Linked DNA regions of Homo sapiens: region 2 is linked to region 1. The links come from fine-mapping of genetic effects on gene expression. Tissue or cell type: whole blood. Region 1 holds a variant in brackets; the other region holds the start of a gene. All regions are shown on one strand. Distances are between the middles of the regions.

The links. PIP is the estimated chance that this variant, and not a neighbour inherited with it, causes the effect.
Region 2: it holds the start of GAS5, and the variant in region 1 is fine-mapped to the expression of GAS5 in whole blood (TOPMed, PIP above 0.99).

Annotation. Positions count from the first base shown.
Region 1 is chr1:173,758,536-173,761,217 of GRCh38, reverse strand. The region is part of intron 7 of KLHL20 (kelch like family member 20); the gene reads right to left. Among named protein-coding and RNA genes, the nearest start is that of KLHL20, 45 kb to the right of the region's middle. RefSeq lists an enhancer at 1,784-2,284. The variant C/T (reference allele first, on the strand shown) is at 1,496.
Region 2 is chr1:173,866,892-173,869,573 of GRCh38, reverse strand. GAS5 (growth arrest specific 5) reads left to right here and starts at 1,585. Exons shown (of 12, transcript NR_002578.4): 1 at 1,585-1,614; 2 at 2,531-2,583. ZBTB37 (zinc finger and BTB domain containing 37) reads right to left here and starts at 1,194. Exons shown (of 5, transcript NM_001122770.3): 1 at 1,169-1,194; 2 at 454-649. It overlaps SNORD74 (small nucleolar RNA, C/D box 74), which reads left to right and starts at 1,829; the gene lies at 1,829-1,900. It overlaps SNORD75 (small nucleolar RNA, C/D box 75), which reads left to right and starts at 2,636; the gene lies at 2,636-2,682. RefSeq lists an enhancer at 1-1,115 and a silencer at 750-1,159.

The DNA.
Region 1 (2,682 bases):
CCAGTGTTAGGTGCATGTATGTTTAAGACTATGATATTTTTCTGTCGGACAAAGCCTTTTACCATTATATACTGTCCCTCTTTGTCTCTTTTAACCACTGTTGCTTTAAAGTTTGTTTTGTCTGATATAAGAAGAGCTACCCCTGCTCGCTTTTGGTGTCCATTTGCATTAAATGCCTTTTTCCACTGCTTTAAGTTTATGTGAGTCCTTATGTGTTAGGTGAGTCTCCCAAAGGCAGCAGATGGTTGGTGAGTTCTTATCCATTCTGCGGTTCTGTACCTTTTAAGTGGAGCATTTAGGTCATTTACATTCAATGTTAGTATTGAAATGTGAGGTACCGTTACTTTACTTTCGTAGTGCTCTTTCTTGCCTATGTACTTTGGTTTTGTTTTGTGTTTTTGCTTTTTAACTTGTATTTTTGCATTATGGGTACTGTGTGATTTATGCTTTAAAGAGGTTCTGTTTTGATGTGTTTCCAGGATTTCTTTCAAGATTTACAGCTCCTTTTAGAAGTTCTTGTAGTGGTGATTTGGTAATGGCGAATTATCTCAGCATTTCTTTGTCTGAAAACGGCTTATCTTTCGTTCACATACGATGCTTAGTTTCACTGGATACGAAATTCTTGGCTGATAATTGTTTTGTTTGAGGAGGCTGAAGATAGGTCCCCAATTCCTTCTAGCTTATAGGGTTTCTGCTGAGAAGTCTGCTGTTAATATGGTAGGTTTTCCTTTATAAGTTACCCTGTGCTTCTGTCTCATGGCTCTTGATTCTTTCCTTCATCTTGAGTTTGGATAACCTGATGACAACGTGCCTAGGGAAAGATCTTTTTGTGATGAATTTCACAGGTGTTCTTTGTGCTTCCTGTATTTGGATGTTTAGGTCTCTCACAAGGCTGGGGATATTTTCCTTGATTACTCTCCCGAGTATGTTTTCCAGGCTTTTAGAATTCTCTTCTTCCTCGGATATACCGATTATTCTCAGGTTTGGTTGTTTAACATAATCCCAGACTTTTTGGAGGCTTGTTCATATTTTCTTATTCTTTTTTCTTTGTCTTTGTTGGATTGGGTTAATTCAAAGACCTTGTCTTTGAGCTCTGAATTTCTTTCTTCTACTTGTTCATATCTATTACTGAGACTTTCTAGAGCATTTTGCATTTCTAAAAGTGTGTCCAAAGTTTCCTGAATTTTTGTTTTTTCATTAAGCTATCTATTTTCTTGAGTGTTTCTCCCTTCACTTCTTGTATCATTTTTGGATTTCCTTGCCTTGGGCTTTGCCTTTCTCTGGTCCCTCCCTGATTAGCTTAATAACTAACCTCCTGAATTCTTTTTCAGGTAAATCAGGGAATCTTCTTGGTTTGGATCCATTGCTGGTGAATTAGTATGATTTTTTGGGGGTGTTGAAGAGCCTTGTTTTATCATGTTACCAGGGTTGGTTTTCTGGTTCCTTCTCATTGGGGTAGGCTCTGTCAGAGGGAAGGTCTAGGGATGAAGGCTAT[C/T]GTTCAGATTCTTTTGTTCCACGAAGTGTTCCCTTGATGTAGTATTCTCTCTCTTTTCCTATGGATGTGGCTTCCTGTGAACCAAATTGCAGTGATTGCTGTCTCTCTTCTGGGTCTAGCCACCCAGCAAGTCTACTCAGCTCTGGGCTGGTAGTAGGGGATGTCTGCACAGAGTCCTGTGATGTGAACCATCTATGGGTCTCTCAGCTGTGGATACCAGCACCTGTTCTGGTGGAGGGTGCAATGGACTCCGTGAGGATCCTTAGTTTTGGTGGTTTAATACCCTATTTTTGTGTTGGTTGGCCTCCTGCCAGGAGGTGGTGCTTTCCAGAAAACATCAGCTGTAGTAGTGTGGAGAGAGACTGGTGGTAGGTGGGGTCCTAGAACTCCCAAGATTATATGCCCTTTGTCTTCCACTACCAGGGTGGACAGGGAAGGACCATCAGGTGGGGGCAGGATTAGGCATGTCTGAGCTCAGACTCTCCTTGGGCGGGTCTTGTTGCGACTGCTGTTGGGGATGGGGGAAGAGATTCCTAGGTCACTTGAGTTGTGTACCTAGGAAGATTATGACTGCCTCTGCTGAGTCATGCAGGTTGTCAGTAAAGTGGGGGAAAGCCGGCAGTCACAGGCCTCACTCAGCTCCCACACAAACTGAAGGGCTGGTCTCACTCCCATGGTCTCACTCCCACCGTGCCCCTCTCACAACTCTGAGTCTGTTTCCAGGCCACAGGCGGGCAGCAGGCTTGCCCCAGGCTATCCGCCTCCCAGCTGCAAGAGAAAAGGGCTTTAGTTTTCCCCCTGCCGGTGAAGTCTGCATGCAGGATTTGCACCCTACCTTGAGTTCTGGTCAGGAGGCTTCTCACCCTGTTCAAATTGTTACAAAGTTCAGCTAGAGAATTCCTTCTCCCTGGGGAGTTTTATCCCCTGCTCCTCTGGCCACCCTCCCAATGGATCCCTGTGGTGCCAGGCAGGAATGGCCTGCTTGGGGACCCAGCAAACTCCCAGGGCCTTTCTGCTGCTTCCTCTACCCCTGTTATTTCGCTTGCCTCTCTAACTTGACTCAGCTCCAGGTAAAGTTGGAAACTTCTCCTGCAAACAGACCTTCAGCTTCTCCAGTGGGGGTGTGTGTTTGGGAGAGGAGGGTCTCCCTTTCCCATTTCTGCAGTTGGGGCACTCCCAATATTTGG
Region 2 (2,682 bases), 110 kb before region 1:
TGCAGAGAATGTGAAGTTCAGTTGTCAAAATTAGGAAAGCTGGGTAAATCTGCCAAATTCGAAGTTGGCAATTCCGAGGTGGTGATGAATACTTCCATCCTGAAACTTAGTTCTCCAGATCCGATGAAAAAATACAGCATTTACCAAGTATGCCAACATTTTTCCATTAAAATATTTTTAAAAAATGGCTGAAACACTAAACCTGAAGCTGTATACAAGATAGTTGAAAGTACAGTTTCAACTACTGAAAATAGTTTGTATAAATCCGAACAGGAAGACATTTACTTAAGCCCAATGTGCGTTCACTTATCTATATATTACATAGTTACACCACACCTGAAACTTCAGGAACTTACTCTGCCAAGCTCACAGTACTGCCCCGCATTAACAACACACTTATTAAATAGGGAAGTGTATACACTGTTTTCAACAATCAACTTTAGCCAATCTGACCTTTTTCCAAAGCGTTATTGTTTGTTTTGAAACTTTTAATCCAATAAGAGCCTCTGTCGATGCCATCATGAATTCAGATGTGTTTATTTTGGAGCCTACACCAGCGCCTTTTTTGTTTGCTCTTTCCGGCAATTCCCCAGTGAGGAAGCCCCTGGAGGAAAGTCTTTCGCTACCGTCGGCACTGGAGGGGTGAGAGCTGTAAAAGGGAGAATTGGGAACGGCATGGGGTTGGCCACTCCAGCACTTGAGCAGCTTTCTTCTGCGTTAGGAAGCCTGGGGAGAGGGGAACTGGCTAAAGGGCAAAATGTCACTGAGGAACTTCGGAGAAGATGGGGACAAGGCGTCGGGCGGGGGAGCCAGCGCTCAGGTGAGAACTAGGAAGGGGGCGGCGCCCAGGGACCGGCTCCAGGCGGCGGCGGGCGGGGAGCTGCCAGGAGGTGGGTGTGCGTATCTGGGTGTGTCCCGGCTGCGGTGGGGGAGGGGGCCGCCCTTCCCGGGGTCCTGAGGGAGGGGCCCCGCGAGGGGGCGGGTCCGGCAGATCAGCCCGGCCGGGGGCCAAGGGGGTGGAAGGTCGCCCGGTGCCTGGAGGCGGGGTGAAGGAAAGTAGCTGAGCGCCCCAGGAGCGCGCTGCGGCGGAGGGCGGGCGAGGTGACCCCGGTGCAGGGAAGTGGCACTGGGGTGTGGGGCCCGAGTCCAGTCAAGGAGCAGCACCTACCTCCGGGGGTGGAAATGGGCCGGAATGGGCCGGAACACCGTCCCGGAAGTGAAATCCCCCACCCCCTCCCACGGAGCGGGCGACGTGCCGGAAGGAAATCACTCAGCCTTACACCGCCCCCCCTTCCCCCATCCCCAGAGCTTTCCTTGCCTCGCGCCCCCTCCCCTCTCTGCTCTTCCTCCTCAGTCGGGAGGAGGGCGGGAGCACGGCATCACGTGGACGGTCATGTCTCTGCCCACAATGGCGAGGAAGGGCGGGGAAAAGGGGCGGACTTAAGGGGTGGGAAGAAGGTGATACTGGATGAGAGGAAGATTGAGGGAGGTTAGGGGGAGGAGCCGAAGCGGACGCTGCCGGGAGCGTGCGTCGTGACGTCATCAAAAGAACTCTTATATACAGGAGCCCAGGCACCATACTGTCTTTTCGAGGTAGGAGTCGACTCCTGTGAGGTATGTTTTATCTTTGCGAATGTTGCGGGTTTTGGGGCGCTCCAGCCTTTGTCTGCTAAGGTCACCCTGAATTGACTGGGACTTCTAAGCCAGTCGCGCGCCTTTGCAGGGCCTACAAGTTGAGGATGGTGGGGGATTGCACATATGGTGCATGCGTGACCTAAGCTGCGACTATGTTAGAGTAGAACTGCGGAGAAGCCTCGGCTCTCGTGCCCTGCCTCTGATGAAGCCTGTGTTGGTAGGGACATCTGAGAGTAATGATGAATGCCAACCGCTCTGATGGTGGCACATGCCGAGTCACCCGAGTAAGCTATTGTTAAGGGCCGTGACCCGAGCCTCCATCAGCCGTCCGCTCTCATGAAAGGCTGTCGGTGGTAGTCCACGTGCTTAAGTGCCTGCATTCCGCAGTGTCACCAATATTTCCATTAGTGTTTCTTTTTTCTTTTTTGAGACCGAGCCTCGTTCTGTCACCCAGGCTGGAATGCAGTGGCTCGACATCGGTTAATGGCAACCTCCGCGTCCCGAGTTAAGCAGTTCTGCCTCAGCCTCCCAAGTAACTGGGACTACAGGCGCGCGCCACCATGCTAGGCTTTTATATTTTTAGTAGAGACGGGGTTTCACCATGTTGGCGAGACTGGTCTTGAACTCCTGACCTCAGGTGATCCACCAGCCGTGGTCCCCCAACATACTGGGATTACAAGCCGTGAGCCACCGCGCCCGGCCGCCATCGGTGGTTCTTAACTGCGGGTGCAGTGCTTCTTTGTAACATTAAGTGTATCCTTTACCTGTCGCTAGATAATGAATGGTATGTTACCTGCATCATTGGTTTAAAAAGACGAACCGTTTTTTTAAAGAACACTCTTTAAAAAAAAGAACCGTGGAACAATGAATTAAAATCTGTACCTGATCTCTTTAGGTATGGTGCTGGGTGCAGATGCAGTGTGGCTCTGGATAGCACCTTATGGACAGGTAAGAATTGGGGAAAGTATGGTGGGAAGAATGAAATCTAAGAGGTGGTCTCAGCCTGTGATGCTTTAAGAGTAGTGGACAGAAGGGATTTCTGAAATT